2 separate regions of the Homo sapiens genome follow, and region 2 is linked to region 1. Evidence: fine-mapped expression QTL. Tissue or cell type: thyroid. Region 1 holds a variant in brackets; the other region holds the start of a gene. All regions are shown on one strand. Distances are from middle to middle.

Region 1 (8,105 bases):
GAATTTGAATATAGGCCCTCAAAGACTCAAGGTCCCTGTACTTTTCCTGCCCCATACTGCCACACTCACCCATAAAAAATACTACAAAATGCCTTATTATACAAGAGACCTACTAGGCTAAAGAATAAGGCATGAAGGATACACTTAGGCATAGGAGGTTAACCCCCAAAAAGCCATTATTTGAGAAGTTCCCTGAATTCATTTTTCCCAAATAGATCTAGGATCCTAGCTTAAAAAACATTGCTGTTTATTATAAGGTGAGGAATTGCTGGGAATTCCCATGAAAAACAAAATCCACTTAATAGTAAAATTTTGTTGTCTTCATCTACATTTACTATGTTTCTTTATGGCAAATTATTTTAAATAAAGAGTAACTCTATTAGGCAGGAACATTCAGCAGCCTCTGGCCAAGTACAGAGTATCCTGTTGGTACTCTCCAGAGACTGGCTCTTGAACTACCTTCAGGGTAGAATTTTTTTTTTTTTTGAGATGAGGATTTTGCTCTTGTGGCCCAGGCTGGAGTGCAGTGGCATGATCTCAGCTCACTGCAACCTCCGCCTCCCAGGTTCAAGTGATTCTCCAGCCACAGCCTCCTGAGTAGCTGGGATTACAGGTGCCCACCACCACGGCTGGCTAATTTTTGTATTTAGATGGGGTTTCGCCATGTTGGCCAGGCTGGTCTTGGACTCCTGACTTCAGGTGATCCACCTGCCTCAGCCTCCCAAAGTGCTGGGATTACAGGTGTGAGCCACCATGCCTGGCCAGGGTAGGAAAATTAATGGGCACAAGTAAAGTTAACAAGAGTTTGGGAGTAAACCTAGAAAAATCCTTATAAATCATTATATTCATTAAGATTAAAAATAGGCAGTACACTAATTAGGATATGACTATCATTTTATGCATTTCAAATAGGCAATAATGGCTATTACATCTTTAATTTTTATTACCCTGCCTTGTTCATTAGAAGTTTACCCCCTGCCCACCCACCCCCGACACACACAACCCCACCCCAAGTTCCAAAGACAGCAGGAAATTGGCTGCCTTGGCTACAAAAATGGGCAAGGGAAAAGGTACTTTCTCTGGTGTTGGGGCTCTCCCCAAATGCCAAATGTCTGGTGGCTTTTAGGACACAGAGCTGTTAGCTTTGTCCCCAAGGGTCCTGCTGGGGTCCTAGTCATGTAAGTGATATGTACGTTTTATGCTTGGATGAAACACTCAAATTTCTTTCTCAGGCTCCCTTTTTTGTGTCTGGGTTATAAAACTCCATCATCTCTCCCTTCCCCTCACAGCTTCAGGCCAAAGCTTGTGACTTGGCTTCTCACCTGTGCCTTATGGTCCCTCCCCTCTTGAAGAAGCTGCAGAGCTACAGTTTTTACTCCTCTTCTGCCCTCATCCTTGCCAAGGCTTCAGGGAAAACCTCAACTGTTTGTCTTCAATCTTTCAATCTGTTTATTTCCTTTTCAAATCCCATCCCTAAATTCCCTTTTTTTCCCAGAGTACCTCCAGTAGACAAAACAAAGACAGTTAATGAAACTAAAATGCTCATTTGTTGCTGGAAAGTTTTTAAAAGTATTTATATGCTAGCATTCCGTTGAGGGGAAATTGAGTTAGGAAGGGATTATGGCATTATTCATTCATTCACATATTCACTCATTCATTCATATACTGAGGATTGTTGCTGGATAGAATACAATAATGATTCAGAAGCAAATCCTGCTTTTGGGAAGCTCATAGGCTGGCAAGAAAAACAAGACATAGCCACGGAGAACTATAATGTTTGGCAGTTTTGTAAGAGAGATGCAGACAGAACCTAATGTGTGGACAGAGGATGGAGAGATCGCCATGGCTGACAAATCATGGAAGACTGCCTTGCAGCAGACTTTGTATAAGGTAGGGGACATGGAGACAGGGCAGGTACTCCACATAAGGGAGGAGAGGCATGGGAGGTAAAAGCATGACAAAGAGCAAGTGTCGAGCTCAGCTTTCCAGCATGTGTAAGCTGTGCAGAGGGAAGTGGAGGACATCACACCCAACAAGAGATGTGGGCCTCAACAGGCTGGGGAATGTGGTCATTGTTCAGTGAGTAATAGGGAGCCTCTGAGTGCTGTTGAGCAGAGCAGAGATGTGACATAATTGGAGATCTGCTCTAGGAAGATGAATGTGGCAAGCCTTGCACAATATGAATTGGAAGTGGAGTTGCCTGGGGGCAGGGAGCTCCTAATTGTGTGCCAGGCATTGGGCAGGCTATTAGGTGCTTTGATGTTATTTAGCCTTCTAAATAACTGCAGGAGGCAAGCATTATCCTTCCAGACTTGCAGGTGAAGAAAGGAGACTCTGGGGAATCTAAGCTGCTTGCTCCAAATCCCCTAGTGAGGAAGCAAGGGAGACAAGATCCAAACCCTGTTCTTTTCCTCTCTAGGCAAGTCATAAAGCAAGCTGTAACCCTGTGCATGACACCATGTACCTGACACAACCGTCTTTCTTCTCCCAGTGCATCTCCTGGCTGTCCACCGGTATGTGGAGCTTGATCATTTCCTGGGCTGCCTTTCAGGAAGGCCCAGGTGGAATTAAATGCAGAGTGCCTCTGCTTCTGTTGGATTTCCCCCAAACTGACCACAGATCAAGGAGATAAGATGATGCCTTGAGTTAAGTCAGGTTCCAAAACAACAACACTGACTGCAGAGAACTGCAAAGGTAGCAGGAAACCACCCTCCTCTCTGGCAAGGAGTGTTAGTTTTTGTCTTTCCCTTCTCGGCTAAGCCGTGGTACCCGGAGCAGTGGATACAGAAACCCGGGAGAAAATCTTCTGGATACCCAGGAACCTGCTGGGTCCCTGAAGAATGTCAGTGAGAAACTCAGCGTTCCTGTGCCCTGGGCTGACCCCCTGTTTAGGGAAGGCAGCCCAGAGGGCTCCTAATGCACTCAGAACTGTATCATCGCACCTGCAGCCTGGAGGAGATGACCTTCCATCAAGACGCCTGCTATTAAAACTTTGTTTAAGGAAAATAAAAAGATATCCTCATTCTAAACATGGGACACAGTGATAGGTGTGTTCTGTACTTGACAATCAAGGGTTCCAGTTTGCTGAGGGGAAGCCTGGCACAGTGGCAAGAGGTGGAGCTTTGGAAGCAGAGTGGGGCTGAATCACAACTCACCCAGTCACCAGCTGTGCAGCGTTGGCCAAACCACTTAGCTTTTTACATTTCTTTATTATTAAATAGGAATAAAAATAATGGACTAGAGAGAATAAGTACCTGACCCTTAGTATATACATAATAATGTAGAATAATTTCTTCTAGTCTTAAATGTTCAACATCATGGGCATTGCTTTCTCAGGGAGGTAGCTTTCCTCCTCACAAATTTACCAATTGAAGGAATGAATCTTTAGAGAAAAAATGCTGAAACTACAGCAAGCTATTCCTGTCCTTCAGCTAGCTCTTATGTCCAGTGTCTTATAATTATTCATCTTTACAACTTTCTTTTCCACCAGACTGGGAGCTCCTTGAAGACAGTGACCACTATGTCTTCAATTCTCAGCACATAGTTCTTTCTACCTCAGCTACCTTATTTTGAGATCTGTACAAACTACAGAGTCTGTAGTTCTTCTGGGATTTTTATGCTCCCAGCCTGGTTTGAAGAGTGACTTTAAGCAACACCTTTAGGAGCACATCCAATCTTCTGAAAACCATCTCATTATCACGTAAATTATTAGCACAAAATACTTCACCTTGTTACTCTGCGAAGAGCTTTGGTTTCTAATCCAAGCCGATTATATGTGCCAGCATTTTCAATAACATCTTAATAATGCCAATCCTCCCAGGCCTCTGGACAGAATCAGACCAGGTGGAGAGATCCAGAGTTCAAAGGCATCCTGAAGGGGCATGGCAGCGGGGGAAGAAACGAAGCATCAAAATTGGATTCAAATCCTGGCTGTGCAGTTGGGACAAGCCAGCATAGTGCCTGGGATCAGGATAAATGCTCAGTAAAGGTTAATACCCTTCTCCTGACTCCTGAGAAAAGTAAAGAAATAAAACTTGTTGCAAATAAACAGGGAGAGAAGATCCACCACATTCCTGAGTCCATTTAGAATATGGATTTTTTTTAAGCCTTTCTAAGGACTGGATGAAGCAGGTTATTTCACTTTAATTATGGCAGCTGCAGCTGCTGCTTGTGGACTCAAAGACCAATTTTCACATTAAAAAGGGGGAAAAAAAAACATCCACACCCACACACAAACTCACCGAGAAACTTCACTGCATACACAGAAGAGCATCTCCTTCAGAGAGCACGTCAGTGAGGTGGAAAAATCTGGAATGCCCTGTTCTAGACACTCAGAGCCCAGTGGAAATCCCTGTGCGTGCTCACCCCTGCCTCTCCTCCCACCTTGCCTCCTCTCTGTCCTGAACGTCAAAGAGCAGCTCGTGAGCCACACAGCGTAATGGAATGTTTCTCGGTGAGCAGCTGCATATTTTTAATGCACACAAGGGGAAATAAAGGCAGCAGATGGTTTTATGTAATCTTCCTATGAATTTTGAACTGAGAGTCCTCATTCATGAAGACTTGAAAAGGTTTTGTTGTTTTTTTTCTTTTTTTACACGTCCTCTGTGGGTCAAGCCAACCAGCTCTGGACATGCCCTGGTGAGGCTGTGTGTGTTTGCCTCTGCCAGGGCAGGGAAGCTGAGAGGAGCCTGCTTGCCTTCTTCTGGCCTGGTTTCCACTCCGTGTTCTTTCTTGTGGTTCTTTGTCTGTGAACACACGAGTGGTCCTCAAC[A/G]TTCTCAGTGTTCACAATGGAAAACTCAAGGCAAACTCATGAATCCTTCATAGGCATAGGTGTGCTGTGAAAATCTGAACCTTATGTTCAGTCTTATGTTTGAAATGACTGAGGATCTGTGCTATGGCAGGGACATCTGTCAGCGAGAGGGTCAAGGGGAACAGGTGGGGCAGATGCACCAGTGTAAGAGAAAAGATAACAGTTCCCACTTTTAAGTGAGAGCATGCAGCGTTTGGTTTTCTGTTCCTGTGTTAGTTTGCTGAGGATAATGGCTTCCAGCTCCATCCGTGTTCCTGAAAAGGACATTATCTCGTTCCTTTTTTATGGCTGCATAGTATTCCATGGTGTATATGTACAACATTTTTTTTCATCCAGTCTATCATTGATGGGCATTTGGGTTGGTTCCGTGTCTTTGCTATTGTGAATAGTGCTGCAATAAACATATGTGTGCATGTATCTTTATAATAGAATGATTTATATTCCTTTGGGTATATACTCAGTAATGGGTTTGTTGGGTCAAATGGTGTTTCTTGTTCTAGATCCTTGAAGAATTGCCACACTGTCTTCCACAATGGTTGAACCAAGTTACATTCCCACCAACAATGTAAAAGCATTCCTATTTCTCCACAGCCTTGCCAGAATCTGTTGTTCTTGACATTTTAATAACTGCCGTCTGACTGGTGTGAGATGGTATCTCATTGGGATTTTGATTTGCATTTCTCTAATGATCAGTGATGTTGAGCTTTTTTTATACATTTGCTGGCTGCATAAATGTCTTCTTCTAGAAGTGTCTGTTCATGTCCTTTGCACACTTTTTGATAGGGTTGTTTTTTTCTTGTAAATTTGTTGAAGTTCCTTGTAGGTTCTGGATATTAGGCCTTTGTCAGATGGGTAGATTGGGAGCTGAACAATGAGAACACATGAACGCAGGGAGGGAAACAACATACATTGGGGCCTGTCAGGGGGTTTGGGGAGGGAGAGCATCAGGATAAATAGCTAATGCATGTGGGGATTAATAACTAGGTGATGGGTTGACAGGTGCAGCACACCGCCATGGCACACGTCTACCTGTGTAACAAACCTGCACATCCTGCACATGTATCCCAGAACTTAAATAAAATTAAATATAGAAAAAAAAAATAACAGGCTCTCATCTGAGAAAGATCGTGTGTTTAGAGGATATGCAAGAACTGCCTGTAAAAATGGCCTAACAAGAAGCACTGGCAGGGGAGAAAACTGTTCTCAAATAGCCACAAGTGCTAAAAAGCAGCCTGATGAAGTTTATGCTATCTGTGGAGAATTTTATCAATTTTCTGAAACTTGCTTTTATTTAAGCAATGTCCACCTTTAACCCCTTCAAGCACATCATCAAAAATTCTGGGATTTAAAAGTGCAGGACTAACACTAAGTCTAGTTCTCAACCACTGGAGTTGTCCCAGACCTCTGGGCCTCTGCTCAGAGGTCAGTGCTATTTCTAAAATGCAAACCTGACCCTCCTGTTCCCGGCTCAAAGCCCTTATTGCTCCCCTATTGTCACTGGGGGAGAAGAAATCCAAACTCTCCCCTATAGCAAGCAGTTCTTTTCACTGTCCAGCCTGGCCACCTTTCCAGCCCAGTCCCTGGCCATTCTCACCCCAGACCTTGTATGCTCCAGCTAAACCACAGTGTTTTTAACACCCCACTGTCTTCCATGGCTCTTCCTTTGGCCTCAGATGCCCCTGTAGTGCTTATCCACTAGTTTCCCTGGGCAGCACCCCATCATATTCTGGTGAAGCATCTCCCCTCTCCTGGGAACCCTTTTTCCCACTGCTCCCACCACGTGGGTTGTGACAGTCATAGGTGCTGTGCGTCAATTATTTCTGGCTCTCTACTTTCCAGGTACACTGTGAGAATGTCCACCCTGATAGGGCCATGTCACTAACTGTGGTGTGAGTTGTGAGCAGAAGTGTACCACTTTCAGGTGTTAGATTTAACTGCCAATACAAGACCCTCCAGAGCTCTCTTTCAGCACAGTTGGGATGGCTTGTCAGTCTGGGTCCCTGGGGACTACAATAAGCAGAAACCCCTCTCCTCTCACCATCTCTATTGCCCATAGAAGATGTGGAGTGTAAGACAGGATGAACTCCTTGTTGCTATCAATTCTCTATGATTTAGAGGATGATTTGTACCCAGCATGGACTGACTGATCTGACAGATTCATGGGTCCCATGACGATTGTCATGGTCTTAAACAATCCTGCCTCACTGGCTGTCATTGATTGGTTCAGGGCTGGGCACCTTAACAACGCCGAGTTAGTCATCGTTCCAGACCCGGTTTCTTCCCTTGAGGAGACCAGAACCTGATCAAAGATGAACCAATTAGAATTCTTCCCTGGGATTTCTGAAATCAGTAAGTGAAGGAAGAATGTAGTATCTAGTAGTGCAAATGGTAAGATGCAAAAACTGAGAGCAGTTGGTGGCCATGTGGGTGTTATGGGTTGAATTGTATCCTCAAAAAAGAAAATATGCTGGAGTCCAAACCCCCAGTACTGCAGAGTGGGGCCTTATTTGGAGATAAGGTCTTTATAGAGGCAATCAAGTTAAAATGAGGTCATTAGGGCAGGCCCTAATCTAATATGACTAGTGTCCTTATAAAAAGGGGAAACTTGGCCAGGTGGATGGCTCACGCCTGTAATCCCAACACTTTGGGAGGCCGAGGCAGGTGGATCATCTGAGGTCTGAAGTTGGAGACCAGCCTGGCCAACATGGCAAAACCCTGCCTCTACTGAAAATATAAAAATTAGTCCGGCATGGTGGCGCATGCCTGTAATCTCAGCTACTCGGGAGGCTGAGACAGGAGAATCACTTGAACCTAGAAGGCAGAGGATGCAGTGAGCAAAGATTGTGCCATTGCACTCCAGCCTGGGCAACAAGAGCCAGACTCTGTCTAAAAAAAAAAGGGGGAGGGGGGAAATTAGGACACAGAGACAGATATACACACAGGGAAGATGCCAGGTGAAGATGGGATTCACGCTGTCCCAAGCCAAAGAAACAGCAGAAAGAAAAGTCCAGGACAGATTCTTCCCTGGCACCTTCAGAGGAGCACGGTCCTGCTGACACCTTGATCTCACACTTTAAGCTTCCAGAACTATGAGACAATACGTTTCCAGTGTTTAAGCCACTCAGTTTGTAGCACTTTGTTCCGTCAGCCCTAGGAAATCCACAGAGTGAGGAAAGCACGTCTGCAGTGAGAGAAGGAAGCTTACACGCCTAAGAAAAGCAGACTGGAGCAGCAGAAAGGGTCAGAAAAAATCTAAACAGAATTAGAGTTCCAATTACAATTCTCCTGCATCTCT
Region 2 (8,100 bases), 220 kb after region 1:
CGAGGGGCTGGGGCGAGGGAGCTGGGATGCGCGGGCCCGGCTCGCCGGGAAACAGGTTGCCGCGGAGTCCCGTCCCCTCCCCCTCTGCGGTCCCCGCCGCGACCTGATTCCCGCCCTGCCCGGGGAGCTAACCCAGCCGCCTCCGGGGCGCCCTCCTTCTTCCTGGATTCCCACGGCTGGACCAGAGCCCCTCTGGCAGCCGGGTTAAAGGCTCCTTCAGCAAGGTCAAGGCGCGGCCGGCTGGCACCTGGGGATTTTTTTCCAGCCGAGCACTGGCTTTTCAATCGCATTGTTAAGGATCATGGCAGCGGCAGGAAATCCGAAGGGCCCCACAGGTCTGCGGGAGGGAGGATTTATTTTACAGCAAGGAACAGATTCAGACAGATCGGGGATTTCAGTGGGAGGGGACGAGAGGTTTCAGGACGCTGGAATGTGGCAAAAACAAAACACTCCCCACCCATGCACATCACCATCTCCTGACTGCGGGCTGGGGGGAAGGGAGTTCAGGGCCAATGTGTCCCAGACTTCAGCGTTCCCCACGGCTGTGTCAGGGCTGGGGTGGCTTATCCCCCTACAGACGAAAATCAAGATTTAAAAGCATACTCTTACTGTGGTTTCTCTATCAAAGCCCATCAACGTGATACACAGGCTGCGGCGCTGGAGGGAAGCGGCGAAACGGGGAGAATAAACGCAACAGAAGCAAACTGCTGTCTGCAGAGGCGAGAGGCGAAGGAACGGAAGCCATACCCGACCCCAGCCCCATCCCGTCCCCATCAGCGCCGGGCTAGCGCAGGAAACCAGGAATAGGTGTAGGTAAGGGTGGCAGCCCGGCAGAGCCAGCGTTCTACTCCCTCTAACCCCTCGCCAGCGTGGGCCTGGATGGCTGGGCTGCCTGGGCATCTCCAAGGGGGACCAGGCACCGCGGGCAGGTTTCTAAACACGTGAAGGGCACAGGGCTTGAAAGACAAGGAGGGGCGCCCAGGAAGGGCGGAAAAGAGGGGCTTTGGGGCTCCCCAGGACACCAAGTCAGTTTCTGAAAACGGCGTTCCCTGGAAGGCCTTCCAACACCTCCGAGGGAAGACTTGGAGCTCTGAAGACCCAATGAAACCTCAGTTCTGACTGACTCCTCCTCTGCGATCAATTCCGGATGCCCCCACTTAGTCCCTGCCTCGGTAACCGGTTCTTTGGGGACAGCAGCATCAGCACCCGACGCCCATCGCACAAGTGGGCGCCGTGGTGCGAGGCGTATCCTAGCTACCCAGGCCGGGGTGGGGGCGCCCCGGTACTTACACTCCCCAAGCAGGCAAACTTTCAGGCTTGTCTTTCGAGAACCGGGAGCTCGCATCACAGTTCCGGGTAATCACCGAGGCAGCTTATGTAATTGCCCGCGATGCCGCTCAGCAGATCTCTCTCCTTACTCGGCCTCAGAGCTCAGTACATGGGCACCCTCTTCCCCCCACCCCCCACCCCGGCGATTGGAATCCCGAGCTTGCCCCACCACCGCCTTCTACAAAGCAGCGGGGTGATCTCGTGTGCTACAAACACCAAGCCAGTATGCAGGTTCAGGCAAAACTCTGGCTGCCTCCCTGCGCCCCTTTCACTGCGTCGATGGTTTACAGATAACTGCATTTCTATAAACCCTCTCTCCACGGTTAGGGGGTGGGAGGGAGTTAGAGATCGGGTGGGGGCTTGGCGCGGTACTGTTGAGGGCTCTGCACCCAACTGAGCAGTAATACACTCATCCACATGGACGCGGGTGCATAAATCGCCTTAACATTTTGCCCTGAAAGCGGAGCCAATTTCCAAAGTTAAGGACCACGCAGCTGAATTTCCAGTACTTTCCAACCTCGCCTAGGCGGGGGCAGGCAGAGAAGGGGCGGGCAGCGGGCAGCTAACTCGCCCGACCCCCCCGCCAAGAAGGACTCACTAGGTGAACCCCCCGCCCTTCACCCAAGTAGTTGGTTGTGTATTCCTCGGTTGCGTGTGTGTGTCCACACACACACACACACACACACACACACGCCGCCCCACTACCTTCCAGTCTGCTCCTCCAATGTAACGACCGCATTTAAAAATGGCAATTAAAATGACTGAGGAGCTCGGTGATCACATTTCAACCCAGAGCACATTTCCCGAAGCTGGGGGTGAGAGTAGTCATACAGTCACACTCACACCCGGGAGCCCTCCAAGCGTCCATCTGGCGGCTGCAGCCTCAGTTGGCTCCTAGACGAACATCAATACCGCGGCCGGGCGCCCGGTGAGGAGAGGCGGGCGCCCCGCGGGTTGCAGAGGGCGAGGAGCTGGGGTCGCATCTCCAGGATCTGAGCTCCAACCACCGCCCGTGCGGGGCTGCTGCAGCCGGCACTTGCCCCGCAGGGCAGGCTGCAGCCGCTGAAGCCCGGCGCCGCCTCGCGGGCTCCTCCAGCGCCCGACGGGGGCCTGGGGCGAGCTAGTCTGCAGAGGGGCTGCAGGCGACCGGGCCGGGGCGGGGAACGGGATCCGGGAGAGGCAGACGAACCTGGGGCGCGCCGCCTCCCTCCCACCCGCTTCCCACCTCCCTGCCCTCCCCCAACCCTTGCTCCCAGGCTCCAGTCCGCGGCGGGCTCCGGGGGCTGCGGCGGCTCCAGGCTCCAGAACAGCTTGCCTCTTCGGCCACCCGCGCCCTAGCCTCCCTCCTCCTGGGCCAGGGGAGCAAGCAAACATCTCCCGGAGCCCTCGGCAGCCGCGTGAGCTACCCGAACCCTGCCCGGGCCAGCAGTGCAGAGGGCGATGGAGCTGGCGAGGCGTCGCCGCGGTCCCCAAGGCGCTTTTCCGTAGAGCGGATCACGCCGCCTTACCGTGGCTGCAGGCTGCTACCGCCGGGGAAGCGGCGAGGACGGCGGCAGGGAGGCAAGGCGCCGCGCCGGTGGCTCCTCTCTCTCTCGGCGGCGCGGCTCCTCTGCTCCGCGAGCCGTAGCGGGGCGCCCAGGAAGGAGCAGGTCCGGGCTCTGCGCTCAGCTCCAGCGAGACCAACAATAGCTCCCGCGGGGAGCGGAGCCCCAGCGAGCCTCCAGCCGCGCGCGCACGACCGGCTCCCGCTCCCGGCCGCTCCCGGCCGGCGTCCCTGCCAGCACTGCTGCCCCACATGAAACAGCTGCAATCCCGAGGCTTCTGGGGGGTTGGGGCGGGTGTGTGCGCGCGCGTGTGTGAGTGTGTGTGTGTGTGTGTGTGTTTAATAGCTTCCCTTCTCTTCTTCCCCTCCCTGCCTGCTCGCCTGCCTGCCTCCGTCCCCCACCCTCGCTCTCTTACACACAGAAAGAGAGGGCGAGCGAGAGAGAGACACACACACACACGCACACGCACACGCAGGTTACATGAATGGGAGGCGGTAGCCAATCCTACGAGGCCGGCGAGCCGCGCGGCGCACTGGCGCTGGGAGCAGGGCCGCACTCCGGCGCGGGGGGGCGCCACGCAGGTGATGGGCGCCTCTCCGGGGGCCACGCGCGGCCGCTCCCTCACCCCAGTCTCGGTTCCTCTGTCTCCTTCCCCCTTCCTCTCCGCCGCCTTCTCCATCTTCTCTCCTTTTACCTCCTTTGCTTTCTCGAGTTCTCCGAGCTCTCTCAGTTCGGTATCTTTCTGGTCTCTTTCTTCTTTTACCCTCCTTGCTTGCTTTCTCTTCCCCTTTCTGAAACTTTCTCTTTTCCTTTCTGGACTTTCTTGTACTTCCTCTCCTCTTGCCTTTTGTTCTTTCCTCCTCCTTTGGCTTTCTCTCCAGGCTCCCCGTAGCACGGTCTCGTCCCCTCTCCCTCCTCTTCGCCTTTCCCTGGGTCTCTCTGGCGCCCAGGGCCTCCCTTCTGCCTGCTCGCTGGATGTTACTCCACACCCCCCACCCCAACACTTTTCTAGGGACGGTCTCTTTCAAGTTGCTACTGCAGCACAATCAGAGTAATTAAGAGCTGAGATCTTGAGTTCCTTCTTCAGGCATGCAAGATGCCCAAAGAAAGGCCCTCCTTCCTCGGACAACTTCCCCAAAACCATGGTAACAGCTACTGAGTCGTGATAACAATCACTTAAAAAATAGCAGTGATTGCGGTCCAAGAGATTTCTGTCCCTCGAATGTTTGGATCGTGATGGCAAGCACATTTCCAAGAGAAGGGCATTTTTATGTGATGAGAGCGGTAGTTTGACTGAGTGGCAACTTGGAAGGGCTTTGGGGAAGAGACTGGAGGAATTCCCACTCCAGCCCTGCTGCCTGCTGGCTAAAGGACTTAGTGCGAGCCATTTCCCCTTACCCGGCTTCAGTTTTCTCATCTATAAAATGGATGATACCGACTTCACCAGTTTTGGTGAGGATTAAAAGAGAGAACAATGGAAAGAAAGCACTGGGTGTATATGAGATGCTTAATTTATGTTAGTTTCCTTCTTTAAGACAACTTCCTTCATGATCTTCTGCTACAGTGTGTCTCTCTGATCTAAAGTAGTCAATGAAGGAGGAAATGTGACAATGCTAATTTCACATAAATGTGAAAGGAGGGGTAGGCTATTTTGAAAACTCTTCTGTGTGGTGAGGAGACTGTCTAGCCAGTTGCCATATGCTGATTATAAAGGCATCACAGATTATAAACGTGGGGTGCTGGAATGCCCCTTCAACATCTCATAACTAGGGCATCTCAGAAAGGCAGGGATGGGTTGGGGTGGGTGGGAAGTTTCCACACAATCTGTCCAATCTATTTTTAAAATCTTTATGATAAGTGTACAGTGACCAGTGACAAAGCCTCTGAGATTAACTAAAATGTCAAGTCTCTGCCTTTGAATAGCATTTATCAACTTTGTGTCCTCACTGCAGACATCAAATGCTGGGCATCAGCTGTGATTGGCAGTTAGATTTAGTCCTTCAACAAATATTTCTTGACCACCTACTTTGTGGCAGGTGCTGTGATAGGTCTCGGCATTCAGTGGTGAGACAAACAGGCCCTGTTTTCTGAGCTTACAGTTCAGTAGGCATGTTTCATGAATGTACACTGAGAAAATGAGACACATGTACCTGAAGGAGTAACATTGGTTTGGTGGACAAATTCTTTCATTACAGAAGATCCAAGACAGGGAGTATAAGAAAGGGATCTTTGAGAGTGATAATTTTGCAAATCACTTTCAGTCTATGCATTTCATTTGACCAGTGAGAAAAATGAGACCCAGATGCTAAAAGTAGTGGGTGAAAGTATGTTGAGAAACAAAAAATATATATAGGTTCAAAGTATCTGCCCACATGATACTGATTAATTTCAAAGGGGAAAATAGTAACTTTTCAATAGAAAACCTGAAAGACTCCACCTTGAGTGATTAAAATCAGTATTAGCAGGAATGTGACAAATAGACATCAAGTGGCCCCTGATATAGTGCACTGGGAAGGACATATCACTTCTGTGATATTCCTGGTAGACATGAATAACCTGAATCTAATCATGAGGGATGCCCAATGGAATTGTTGGGAGTAAGGGAAGACTTCCCATAGGAGATGACAGGTTCTCACTCTGTCATCCAGGCTGGAGTGCAGTGGTGCCATCTTGGTTCACTGAAGCCTCAACCTCCTGAGCTCAGGTGATCCTCCCACCTCAGCCTCTTGAGTAGCTGGGACCACAGGCATGTGCCACCACACCACGCCAAACTAATTTTATTTGTTTGTTTGTTTGTTTTACAGATGAGGTCTCACTATGTTGCCCAGGCTGGTCTCAAATACCATCAATCCTCTGCCCTAGGCTTCCCAGAGTGCTGGGATTATAGGTGTGAGCTACCATACCTGGCCTTGAGCTGAGTTTTGAAGGCAAGGAATTAGCTAGACCGTGAAAGGAGGGGAGATGCTTTTTAGGTACAGGCAATAGTATGATGACATGGACAAAAGCATGAGACACTCATAGCAGAGTTGGACATATTGGGGGAGGGTCTTGGAGGAGTCTAGATGAGTCCCTAGCATCTAGGATTGGATTTTGACAGGGCCTGAAGGAGGCTAAGGATCCAAACATCCTGAAAGTTCAGGTACTGGGGCAGAAGGAGGGTAGACAGTTAATAAAGGCTTTTAAGAAGAGGAAGGATGTGATCTTGAGTGTGTTTTCAAAAGATGATTTGGCAGCAGTGTAGAGAAATGGATTAACTGGGGTGACTTAGGAAGAGTAGAGGCAGGAAAAAGTAGGTCATTTAGGGAAACTAAGGCAGTTGCAATGAAGCCAGAAAAGGGAGGAGAGATTTGAGAGAGATTGAGGATGATTTTGATTTCTGATTGGATGGGGGTAGCAAGGAGAAGCCCAAAGTGACACTCAGTTTTCAAGCTTGGGTATCTCAATAGAAGGTGGTACTACTCATTGCGATGTCAAGAGTATTCAGGAGGAAGTAGAATTCAGGGAGCATTTTAGAGGGGGGAAAAAAGGTCAGTTGCTACCATGTTATAATCTAACTCTATAGCTAACCGGAGATTCTCCTATATGGCTGCTCTGTGCCATAGGAAACACTAGTTGTAAAATTCAGCCTAAGACCTCCAAACAGCCAGCTCTACGTATTGCCCAGAAAAACAGGAGATTGGATATAATGACAGTACATTATTTGTAATAATGGGAAAAAAATTGAAGCAGCCTAAATGGTCAAATAAAATAAGTAAACTGGAGGACAGCCTTTGTTGGAATATTATGCAGCTACTCGAAAGTGTTTTTGCAGTTTTTCGTGCCATAAAAAAGTTAGTATTGTCATATATAATATTTTAAAAGAGAATTCAAAATTGTTAGCTACATAAAAACCCTCTTGCAGAAAAGTCTGAAGAAAAAAATGCCAAATATTAACCGTGTTTTCTTCTGGGTGATGGGGTTATGAGTAATATATATTTTCTTCTTTATACTTTTTCTGGCATTTTATAATCTTCCTACTATAAACATTCATTATTCCATTATAAAAACTTTTTAAAGCTGCCATTAAAAAAACACAAAGACATGGCTATGATCATTCCCCCTCCCCTGACTTTATCCCTTTTCAATCCACCGTTCCCACTCCCCCTGAAGAGTAACTGCGTTTTGAGTTTTATCTCTGAGAGTGAAATAAGGAGGCATTTAACAAATCAGGGGAAATTAGTAGCTGGGCTAGAGAGGGGGAGAGGGCATTCTTATGGAGGCAGATACATTATGAGAGCTGTTGAAACTGTATATATTAAAGATGTTTGCATTGCCCTTATTGATTCTGTGATATGTTACAAGCAAAAGAAAACATATAGTGGGGTCAAGAAAATGTGAGTCTTTAAAGGGCAAGTTTTAATTAGCAAATGTATTTATTTGCAAAAAAAAAATCCTTCCCTTCAGAGTCCAGCTGTTACTATAAAATTGTTTCAGGGAGTAAGTACTTCAAAGCAAGAAGACACTGAGGAGCAAGAGGCAATGCCTCATGCCTGTTGTCTGACACCACATCAAATATGCAAGTTGGTTACTTAGGATTTGGACACCTACTGATAAATGCCATCAAACTTCCATAATTAGAGGGTGAGAAAAGTGCCTGCCAGAGGATAGTCTCAGTCTTTGGAAAAGTTGCTGTAAATAGTTCCCTGGTGAGGTTACATCTGCATCTCTGATTTTCGTCTCACAGAAATATTTACCCTGTGGGTAATTTCCCCAACCTAATAATAATAACACCTTACACAGCATAGCCCTTTCACCTTTTCAAAGGGCCTCCGCATCTGTTGATTGACTCAATCCTTGTACCCACGCCTGCTGGAATCCTACTTCCAGTGTGCACCAAGAGGAAGAGGGACCCAGAGAGGTTCAAACAAAGAGGCAGAGCAGGGGCTAGAACTAAAAGAAGGAATAAGAGACATTCTTGAAGAGCCTTCTGTGTGGCCCTGGAGCTTCCACGGTGTGTTATCACATAGAATTGTGATAACTAGAGGGGGAGAGTGAACACACTGAGGCTTGTGAGGTTCTGGCTCAGCCGAATCAGAATCAGAATCCAGCTCTCCAGAACTCCCAAGCCACTTGCCTTTCCCAGCATAGCCCCATTTTTAAAAGCCAAGAGGTGAGGCTGGTGGTGATTTTCTGTCTGACTGACTCCATTTAATCTGTGAGCTGTCTTTCTGTGAGGTTTGTCTAACCT

Alleles and levels. Alleles are on the strand shown, and positions count from the first base shown. SD is a standard deviation of normalised expression in the study named.
As copies of G replace A in region 1, the expression in thyroid of the gene that starts at base 3,359 in region 2 goes down (moderate effect, 0.52 SD a copy in GTEx).

What was found. PIP is the estimated chance that this variant, and not a neighbour inherited with it, causes the effect.
Region 2: TENM4 starts here. The variant in region 1 is fine-mapped to the expression of TENM4 in thyroid (GTEx, PIP above 0.99).

The regions. Positions count from the first base shown.
Region 1 is chr11:79,217,253-79,225,357 of GRCh38, forward strand. All of the region lies in intron 2 of TENM4 (teneurin transmembrane protein 4), which reads right to left. Among named protein-coding and RNA genes, the nearest start is that of TENM4-AS1, 130 kb to the left of the region's middle. The variant A/G (reference allele first, on the strand shown) is at 4,772.
Region 2 is chr11:79,437,672-79,445,771 of GRCh38, forward strand. TENM4 (teneurin transmembrane protein 4) reads right to left here and starts at 3,359. Exons shown (of 34, transcript NM_001098816.3): 1 at 2,838-3,359. RefSeq lists silencers at 2,948-3,057, 3,318-3,487.